Homo sapiens: one gene and its partners. The protein of the gene in region 2 purifies or fractionates together with the protein of the main gene of each other region. This does not show direct contact. Each region holds a gene or a part of one and is shown on either strand. Other genes may lie near its edges.

Region 1 (3,651 bases), on a different chromosome or scaffold from region 2:
CCTGCAGGGCTGGCCTGGGATTGCGCAGCCAGCCTACCTCTCCCTGCTGCACTGGAAGCTGGGGGAGCCCTCAGCAACAGGGGCCCCCTTGCATTTGCCCTTTCTATCACACCAAGCTCTGGGGCACCCTACGGATCTGCGGAGGGCACTCCAGTGATGGGGCAGGGGTCTGAACAGTAGAACTTGGGGGCTCTCCAGCTCCCATGTGGAAAGGCTGAAGTGCCCGGTGGCTAAGTATGTGGGGTCTATAGCTAGACTGCCAGGGTCTGAGCCCTGGCTCCACTTCGTACCTACATGTTCCTGGGAAACTTATGGGTCTTCTACCTCTCCCTTTTCTCATCTACAAAGTGCAGGGAATATTAGTAGCTGCCTCAGAGGACTGCCATGAGGGTCCAGCGGCTACATACATTGCTCAGAAGAGCACCTGGTGCTAGAAAAGTGCTGTGCGTGTGTCCACTAATAGTACTGCACAACTGGAGAAACTGCAACCGTATAGTATTGTATGCATTGGCCTTTTGTGAGGATTCAGTTTAAAGAATGACTTCTGAAGCTAAGGAACATCTGAAAGCCACTGCTCCCAGCCCTGAGCTCCTGGCTGTCTAAGGAGGCAAAACCTCCTGGCACTTATCCTAGAGGTTTTCCTGCTGACAGCCAGGTGGGGACTGACACCCAGGGCTCCTGGAAATTGGTAGCAGGTGGGCGGCAGGGGGCTGAAGGTACCTGGACACCCAGCAGGTGGAGCTCCCGCTCGAAGGCTGTGTGCACCCGGTGGAAGGACTCGGCCGTGCTGGCGTCCAGCCCCACGTCCTCGGGCAGCTCGCGGTGCTTCTCGTCGATGAGGCCCAGGATCTCGGCACCCGTGTAGAAGTAGCGGTGCAGGTCATAGGAGGCGGCCAGCAGCTGCATGCGCGTGTCAATGAGCTCCAGGAGGTCTGCCCACATCTCGTTCAGCCCGTCCTTCCACTCGGCGATGGTGGCCGCCTCGCTGTGGCCCGCGTCGATGAGTCGCTCGATGAAGGCATTCACATTGTCCACCCGCTCCTGCCCAATCGCCCCGGTCTCCCGGGCAAAGTCCCGGAACTTGTCCCGCAGAAGCTAGGCATGGGGCAGACAGAAATGTGGTTATGGGGGGCACAGGGGTTACAGGTGTCACCAGCTTAGCCAAAGACTTTCCCAGGCAGCAACTGCAGCTCCGGGAGCTGCGCTGTCACACCTTCCCCAGGGCAGGCCTGCATCGGCTGGTCCCGCCTCACACTGGGGAGGTTACGTCCTATGCAGCACTCTGTGTGTCTTGAGTGACGGCTGGCTGCGTCTACCGCATTAGAGAAAGACAAAAACAGCAGGAGTTGTGGCTACTCACAGTCACGTGGTCAAAGTCTTGCCCCATTTCCGGGGAAGAGGCCACTAGCTCCTTTTCTGAAATCCACTGCTCCAGGTCGTCGGTCTCCCGCTTGAGCTGGAACAGGTGGTACATGTTCTCCAGCTTGCGCTTGCGCTCTTCCGCCACGTCCTTCAGCCCTGCGTAGTGCTTGTCCACTTGCCCCTGAAGTCTGATGATCTGTTCCCTGGAATTCAAAACCAAAAAGGCCCTCAGAGACGGCAGCCACGAACCCAGAGCCGTGGCTCCAGGGAGCCAACATATGCCAACCACAGCCCCCTGGCAGGGATAGGTAGGGAGTGAAGCTCTGGAGAAATGACAGGGGCTTTGCCGGGGAAGAGCTGGGGAGAGAAGGGGCCACACCCTAGCCTCAGGGGATGACACACTGTGTCCTGGAATTCTGTCCTGGAGGGGTGCTTCCCATGGTGCCCCTCACTCTGGCAAGCTTACAGGGACAAGTGCAAATGGGGAACGCCTCCATTGTTCTTCCAGAGAGGCTGGGGGAGCAGCACTACCTGAGTGGGGCTCCCGCAGCAACAGCTCTGCTCAGCCCTCCAGGGAGGGAAAAGACATACTAGGGGCCCAGACAATGTGGCTCCCAGGGAAACCTCTGGGGTGGCTGCTGAGGACCCACAGTGGTGGGCACCCTAATGGCAGCTGAGGACAGGGCCATGGCTGGGGGCAGTGTGTGGTCTGTGGCCCAGTGGGCTTCCATTTATGCAGGATCCACAAAACCTCGCAGCCCATGTGGGCACAGGTTTCCACCTGCACTCCTACATCATGGTTCTGTCTGGACTGTGAAGTCCTGGAGACCTTCTGGACCATAAAAATAAAAGCTAAAGTAGTCTTCAGTGTCCCTTAGCATATTGTAACCCTTCGGAAAATTGGTGCTCTCAGGTCACCAAGAGGGTAGTTTTGCTAACCCCTTCTCTGATCATTTCGAAAACCAGGGCCTCGATGGCCCAGCTGGAAGTGATTCACACAAAACCAAGGCATAAAATGAAATTGGATCCATCACCAGTCCCGCAGCAATTTTCTCCAGCCCTATTTGATGGGAAAACTCTTTCCATTTTCCTTTTAAATCTGAAGGGACGTTGGCTGGTGGGCCCCTGGCTCAATCCCCATCTCCTGACCGAGTCACCACAGGGGGCGCACGCACCCCTCAGGGTGGCCTGCAGACAGCAGGCCCTGGGCCCGGCTGGCCAGCTGCTTGATGTTCCGGCCGTAGTCCTCCACCGCACGCTGCTGCCGCAAATGTCGCTTCAGCATCACAATGGCGCCCTCTTCATCCTAGGAGGCAGCAGACGGTCAGCGCCAGAGCTCAGTCTGGCCATGATCCCTCCCTTGGCAAGTTGTGCCCCCACTCCTGGAGGTGCCCGAGGGAGGAGGGGAGTAGGCTTGTGGGACACCCGCAGGAGAGCCACACATGCTTCCTTCCTGCCCTTCTGATTTCCCAGCAATGCCCGTGCCCTACCTTCCTCTCTGGACTCCCCTGATTCGTATCCGACATATACCCTTCCTTTTGTGCTCTAACCCCTGTCCCCATGAAAACATCCTATATCATTCCAGCTTTGAGAGACCCCCACCTGTCACCTCTCACCCCATCTCTTTCATAGCGTACAGAATCCAGGGTAAAGAAAAGTAGAGAACCCTTGGGTTAGAGCAAACCTAAGTGGGTAAACAGGAGGCACCTGGCTTCAGTGTGTGCCCTGCAGGGGTGTGTTCAAGGAGGCACCAAGGGAGGGCAGGGAGTCTGTGGGTTCCTTGTGCCCCTCCCCTGGCCTCACTCCTCACACAGTTGGACTCACAAGGCTCCCTACCGACAGCCAACCTCAACTCTTCCTCTCTGCCTGGGCACCCTGGCTGGTATCCCCTGCCCGAACAGACCTTGGGGATCTCATCGGAGATGACGTAGAGCTCCTGCTCGCCAATCCAGGCCTCAGCCTCGTCTGCATCCAGGTAGTACTGCTGTGCCTCGTTGGCGTCCCTCAGTCGCTGCAGCCTCCCGGCCGCTGCCTCCCGCAGCCTGTCCCAGGAGCTCTGCAGGTGCCCCAGGCGCTCCTCAAGGTCCTGGCAGTCGATCTCCGCCGCCTCCACCAGCTGCTGCCCTCTCTGCAGCACATCCTCAACCCGCGGCGTATGGCCCAGAATCTCATTCTGCAGTGTCTGCGGCCAGAAGGAAGGGCTCGGGGCAGGGCCTTCCCACCATGCGGGGGAGGCTGCTTCAGCAGTGGCAGCACAGCTCTGACACCCTTGGTCCCTCTCACCCCCGT
Region 2 (3,651 bases):
GTTAGCCAAGATGGTCTCGATCTCCTGACCTTGTGATCCGCCCGCCTCGGCCTCCCAAAGTGCTGGGATTACAGGCGTGAGCCACCGCGCCCAGCCCATTTTTCTTTTTTTTAATTATTATTTTTTGAGACAGAGTCTCACTCTGTCGCCCAGGCTGGAGTGCAATGACACGATCTCGGCTCACTGCAACCTCCACCTCCCGGGTTCAAGTGATTCTCCTGCCTCAGCCTCTTGAGTAGCTGGGATTACAGGCACGTGCCACCATGCCCAGCTAATTTTTGTATTTTTAGCAGAGACGGGGTTTCACCATGTTGGTCAGACTGGTCTCAAACTCCTGACCTCGTGACCTGCCTGCCTCGGCCTCCCAAAGTGTTAGGATTACAGGCATGAGCCACCACGCCCAGCCTTCATAGTCACTTTTCATACTGCCATTTTCCCTCTTGGGATAAAAATGTTCTCAGAAAAAAATGGACCACGTAAATTAGGTTGACAGCTTCTTTCTTTGAGTCAATAATGATAGCTTCCTAGTCAATCACTCCTTTCTCCTTAAAACATTACCTTGGAAATATTAATTCTGACAGTCATAGCAATGACATCTTTCCTGAGTCAGCTGCTGCTCTTTGTTAATTATCGCTCATTAATTGGTAAGGTGAGCAACCACAAAGGCTGCCAGCAGTAGCCTAGGATGGCAGTTAGATAATCAAGATTGTTTACTCAATGTATGTGTGTTTGAATCCCCTTTCAAAAGAAAAAAAATCATATACTGCAACTGTCCAACAAATTCCACCTGTCAGAAACCAATGCTCATTTCTTTTCTCAGACTTAAAAAAAGAGCTGGACAGATTGCAGAGATCTACTTGCCTCAAAGCTGCAGAATAGCCATAAAGTATTTTTAAAATCTTAAAGAGCTTATGTCTCCAAATCATCATCACTGTCTGTCTTGAGATACCAACAATGCCAGGCAATTTACTTCCACTTGGTAGCTAGCTTTAAAACCCAACTAAACTCTAATTTTTTAGCTAAAGCATCAATTCTGGGCAGAACAACAACAGACGTTTTCAGGTGTATGGCTGGACATCAGGAGTATTTTGTCTATGGGCTGGCAATGTTGCCTAATGTTTTTCAGCATCCTCTGTCATGTGTGCAAAAACTGCAGGCAAAGGATGAAACTGCTGCAAAGTCCTCATGGCTCTCTTTCCAGTGGCATTCAATGGAGAGGGGACAGCCTTCAATACCACACAAATTTGTCATGGTACATAGATCAGATGACTCGTTCTCAGAATGGGCTTATCTGGAAGAGTCTTAAAGATTCACCAGGCACAGTGACTCACACCAGCACTTTGGGAGGCTGAGGCAGGTGGATCATTTGAGACCAGCCTGGGGAACATAGCAAAACCCAGTCTCTACAAAAATTAGCCAAGCATGGTGGTACACACCTGTAGTCCCAGCTACTGGGGAGGCTAAGGTGCAAGGATCACTTGAGCCTGGCAGGTCAAGGCTGCGGGTAGCCGTGAGCAAGCCACTGCACTCCAGCCTGAGCCACAGAGAGAGACCCCTGTCTGAAAACAAAACTGGCAAAACTCTATGCACCCTCTAAGTATCTCACTTTTCAGGATCAGCTGAATTTCACTTAGAGTGGCATCAACAGACTAAAGTTAAACCTGGCTACTTAGAAAAACATAAGTTTTATTTGAAGGAAGTTGCAACACACAATTCAAAAATGCTATAGAAGTATGGCCTCTATATAGGCTTCTTCCACATAGCTAACTGCTAATGATTAGTAAGATGGCGGCACTGGTTTCAAGAAGATAATTTCATGCCTGAGGACTCTTCTCTGTAGACTCACACTGTGCAATGACAGTGTCAAGAATGAACATCCCAGGGCAGGGGCTCTGTACATTTTTTAGGTATAAGACCCCTTTAGGATGTTTCAGAAAGACCCTTCCTAACACACACACACACACACACACACACACACACACACACACACTTCACACTGGTCTATAGATAATGTTTGGGACGTGCCAAACCTCCTTAGTCTCCTACTGGGGTCTGCAGCCCAATGTCATTAGGTGTTCTGATCTCTAATACCCAACATGACTGGAAAGAGTTCAGATACCTTTCAGAAAACATATAAGACAGAGAAGTATAATGGAGAACTGATATAAAAAATCAGAAAACCTTGCTGGGCACAGTGGCTAACGCATGTAATCCCAGCACTTTGGGAAGCTGAGGTGGGTGGATCACCTGAGGTCAGGAGTTCGAGAACAACTTGGCCAACATGGTGAAACCTCATCTCTACTAAAAAATACAAAAAATAGCCGCGCGTGGTGGCAGGCGCCTGTAATCCCAGCTTCTTGGGACGCTGAGGCAAGGGATCGCTTAAACTCGCGAGGCAGAGGTTGCAGTGAGCTGAACCATTGCACTCCAGCCTGGGCAACAAGAGCAAAACTCCATCTCAAAAAAAAAAAAAAAGGAAAATCAGAAAACCTCTTAGAAACAAAAAGGAAAGAATCTATCACAAGCAGTTAAAAAATAAAGGCTCGGCCAGGTGCAGTGGCTCACGCCTGTAATCCTAGCACTTTGGGAAGCTGGGCAGATCACTTGAGGCCAGGAGTTCAAGACCAGCCTGGACAACATGGCAAAACCCTTTCTCTACTAAAAATACAAAAATTAGCTGGGTATGGTGGCACCCGGCTGTAATCCCAGCTACTGGGGAGGCTGTGGCGCTAGAATCACTTGAGCCTGGGAGGCAGAGGTTGCAGTGAGCTGAGATCGTGCCACTGCACTCCAGCCTGGGTGACAAAGTGAGCCTCTATCTAAAAAATAAATTAAAAATAAAGGCTCACCTCATTCCCTGCCTACCTCTGCCCCTGCCCCTGCCCCATAAGGTATACTCCAGTAGCCAGAAACTATCTAGCTCCTCCCTGGCTGGGCCCCAAGAACCTTACTATAGAACACCCAAGGACTGCCCAGTATTTTTTTAAGTATTACATGAGAAGATCCAAAAAGCCACACACTCCCAATTCACACTGCTCCCTGGCTAAAAACAGTAGCCCCTTTTTAACAGCTGATTTTAGTCCTGGTGCGGTGGCTCACACCTGTAATCCCAGCACTTTGGGAGGCCGAGGCGGGCGGATCACGAGGTCAGGAGATCGAGACCATCCTGGCTAACACGGTGAAACCCCGTCTCTACTAAAAATACAAAAAAAAAAAAAAAAAAAAAATTGGCTGGGCGTGGTGGCAGGCGCCTGTAGTCCCAGCTACTCAGGAGGCTGAGGCAGGAGAATGGTGTGAACCTGGGAGGCAGAGCTTGCAGTGAGCCCAGATCGCACCACCTCACTCCAGCCTGGGCGACACAGGGAGACTCCCTCTCAAAAACAAACAAACAAACAAACAAAAACAAAAAAACAGCTGATTTTACTTACTGATTTTTTGTCAGGAGTACTGTGTTGAGGTAACAGCTGATTTTAAAACATAATAGCATCTCGAAAACCAACCTGAAGCTTTTCCCCAGGTTCAGATTAAAACTAAAAGAATACTTTTTTAAGAAAAACAAACCATCCTGAAAATCAAGTGGGGTGTACTATTTGGGACTGAAATACTTTATGAGCAACTGAGAATCTGATTAGTTCCTTGACACCCATATGG
Region 3 (3,651 bases), on a different chromosome or scaffold from region 2:
CATTAATGGATAACCAAAATATCTGTTCTTTTCTCTAGATACCAGCAACATTACCTGAAGTGTGTTATTTACTTTACCTAGACTACCAATGCCTCCCCAAGGCAACAGCTTCTTGACACTGTGAAGAAAGTCTTTCAATAATTAGTCATGGGCTGATCTGCACCGAATCTCATTCATTTGGCCTGTCTCTATAGTTATAGACTGGGCTGGGCATGGTGGCTCATGACTGTAATCCCAGCACTTTGGGAGGCCAAGGCAGGTGGATCAACAGAGGCCAGGAGTACAAGACCAGGCTGACCAACATGATGAAACCCTATCTCTACTGAAAATACAAAAATTAGCCAGGTGTGGTGGTGCAGGCCTGTAGTCCCAGCTACTTAGGAGGCTGAGGCAGGAGAATCGCTTGAACCCAGGAGGTAGAGGTTGCTGAGATGGCATCACTGCACTCTAACCTGGGTGACAGTGAGACTCGATCAAAAAAATATATATATATATATTTATATATATAAAGTATTATACATAAAGTATATACAAATATATATAAAAATTATATATAAATATATATAAATTATATATAAATATATATACACACATAAATATATACATATATATACATATATATAACACATAGTTATAGACTGATCTCTTTCTTTTAATCACATCGTATCCAATGCAGAGGGCTGCTTATTCATTTCCAAGTGATTATGGTCATCACTGTTAGCTGAGTATCTCCCAGAAAAACTCAAACTCAAATTTAGTGTCTGTTAAGTAGAAAAGGAGACTATAAAATTGTATGTATATTACGATTATAAACTTTGGAAAAAATGCATAAATAGGCTAAAACTCTAAGGGAACACTGAGGAACAGTTTTATTTGCATGGTGAAGACATAACAGTACCTACATTGACTAGATCCTACTTTGTGCAGGCCCTGTGCCAGTCACTTTACAGACATGGTCTATAATTCTCACGATTATTCTGTAAGGAGGATATTATGATCCTCACTTTACAAATGAGGAAACAGACTCTAAGAGATACTAGGTAGGAAAAATAGGCTGATACAACTAGAAAGTGGCAGAATCTGGTTTCAAACCCATGCCTGGGCTCATTCTCCCTACCACAGATGGATTTCTCTTTTCTATTTGGTGCTGTTATTGAATTAATACATAAATCCCAGTGCCCAAAAGTCTGGTTCTGGCATGAAGGTTCCTCTGACTACACTTTCCCTGGCAGTCCTGAAGAAGCAGTTGAATCCATACTTCAGGGAGAAACAAGACCACATACCTAAATGCAGCTGGACATCTTTCACCTCCAGGGTGCTAGACTTGCGATGCCGCGCAAGCTGACAGGCTGCTGTCACCACACTCTCGATAAAATCATCAGCAATCTGCAGCAGCATCTGGGGAAGGTAAAGTGGGAAGAGTCAGCACGACATTGGCAGGGTAGGCTCCTGTTGCTGGGACAACTGCTTTCAGCTTGGATTGCATATTTAGTCAGGCATTCTAGTAGAAGGCTGGAATCAGCATTTGGGCTAAGGTGGGGAAGAGGAATGAGAAGGACAAAAGAAATGTTACCCAGGTTGAGTGCAACTCACACCTTTCTGAGCATATACTTTCTACCCAGCAGTGATCAACTATCCCAATCCCTACCCTCCATATCTTTATTTATTAGTGGGAAAATAAAAGTGAATCATTTCAATTCCTCACTCACAGTATCTTAAAAGCACTTTTGTTTCCATTATCTCACTTAGTCCTTACAATAATCCTGTGAAGAAAATGGGACATGGATTTTATTCATTCCATAGAGGATTTCACAGACTCAGAGAGACTAATTTGTTCATGGCCATGTAAGTAGAAAGCAGAAGGCCAGGTACAATGGCTCATGCCTGTAATCTCAGCACTTTGGGAAGCCGAGTTGGGAGGATCACTTGAGGTCAGAAGTTCGAGACCAGCCCAACAATATTGCAAGAGCCCCATCTGTATTTAAAAATAAATAGGCCGGGCGTGGTGGCTCACGCCTGTAACCCCAGCACTTTGGGAGGCTGAGGCAGGTGAATCACGAGGTCAAGAGATTGAGACCATCCTGGCCAACATGGTGAAACCCTGTCTCTACTAAAAATACAAAAATTAGCTGGGCGTGGTGGCACGTGCCTGTAGTCCCAGCTACTTGGGAGGCTGGGGCAGGAGAATTACCTGAACCTGGGAGGCGGAGGTTGCAGTGAGCTAAGATCGTGACACTGTACTCCAGCCTGGCGACAGAGCGAGACTCTGTCTCAAAACAAAAAACCAATAATTAAAAAAATAATAACAAATAAATAGAGGCCAGGCATGGTGGCTCACACCTATAATCCCAGAACTTTGGGAGGCTGAGGTGGGCAGATCATTTGAGGTCAGGAGTTTGAGACCAGCCTGACCAACATGGTGAAACCCAGTCTCTAAGGGCCAGGCACAGTGGCTCATGCCTATAATCCCAGCACTTTGGAAGGCCAAGGCAGGTGGATCAACTGAAGTCAGGAATTTGAGACCAGCCTGACCAACATGGTAAAACCCTGCCTCTACTAAAAATACAAAATTAGCTGGGCATGGTGGCAGGCATCTGTAATCCCAGCTACTCTGGAGGTTGAGGCAGGAGAATCGCTGAAGCCGGGGCAGCAGAGGTTGCAGTGAGCCGAGACTGAACCACTGCACTCCAGCCTGGGTGACAGGGCGAGACAAAAAAAAAAAAAAGCAAGCAAGCAGAGGAACCAGGATGCCACCTCAAGCGTTCTGAGTCTAAATCTTGAGTTCTTTCCACATCACTATCAATTATTATTGGACTGTGTGAAGAGAAGGATGAGAATTCTGAAGATAAAAATCTACGAGGCCAGGAGCAGTGGCTCACTCCTATAATCCCACCACTTCGGGAGGCCGAGGCAGATGGTTTGATTGAGCTCTGGAGTTCGAGACTAGCCTGGGCAACATGGATGGCAAAACCCTGTCTCTACAAAACATACAGAAATTAGCTGGGCTTGGTGGCATGCACTTGTAGTCCCAGTTACTTGGGAGGCTGAAGTGGGACGCCTGCTTGAGTCCAGTTAGTCGAGACTACAGTGAGCTGTGATCATGGCACGGCACTCCAGCCTAGGTGACAGACACCTTGTCTCAAAAATAAATAAATAAATAAATATATATATATGCACGCACATGAAAAAACTGAGATTTTTATCAGTCAATATAGTCCCCATGGCAGCTTCTGCTGACAAACAAAAACAAACTAAAATTACAACCATAGATACAAAATTCCTTGTTCTGGTGGACCATTAACTCATTGTCATCTTTACTGTGGGAACCAAATGGACACCATCTTAGAGAAAGATTTCAGATTAAACAGCAGATCAACTCTAAAAATAACCTCCTGTCCCTCCCTAATCCCATTAAAATAAGTTAAAAAAATATTGCCAGGTGCAGTGGCTCATGCCTGTAATCCCAGCACTTTGGGAGGCCGAAGTGGGTGGATGACCTGAGGTCAGGAGTTCGAGACTAGCTTGACCAATATGGTGAAACCCCGTCTCTACTAAAATTACAAAAATTAGCCAGGTGTGGTGGCGTGTGCCTGTAGTCCCAGCTTCTCAGGAGGCTGATGCAGGAGAATCACTTGAACCCGGGAGGTGGAG

The links.
Region 1: the proteins of CDKN2AIPNL (region 2) and SPTB purify together in Homo sapiens (affinity purification with mass spectrometry; one large-scale study listed by BioGRID and IntAct). This does not show direct contact.
Region 3: the proteins of CDKN2AIPNL (region 2) and TAF12 purify together in Homo sapiens (affinity purification with mass spectrometry; one large-scale study listed by BioGRID and IntAct). This does not show direct contact.

Annotation. Positions count from the first base shown.
Region 1 is NC_000014.9:64,771,860-64,775,510, forward strand, and holds part of SPTB (spectrin beta chain, erythrocytic), read right to left. Parts: exon of another isoform or gene 3,560-3,651; intron 3,545-3,559; coding exon 3,266-3,544; intron 2,669-3,265; coding exon 2,538-2,668; intron 1,566-2,537; coding exon 1,361-1,565; intron 1,096-1,360; coding exon 721-1,095; intron 1-720.
Region 2 is NC_000005.10:134,405,309-134,408,959, forward strand, and holds part of CDKN2AIPNL (CDKN2AIP N-terminal-like protein), read right to left. Parts: intron 1-3,651.
Region 3 is NC_000001.11:28,611,964-28,615,614, forward strand, and holds part of TAF12 (transcription initiation factor TFIID subunit 12), read right to left. Parts: intron 1,399-3,651; coding exon 1,284-1,398; intron 1-1,283. UniProt on the Homo sapiens protein: The TFIID basal transcription factor complex plays a major role in the initiation of RNA polymerase II (Pol II)-dependent transcription.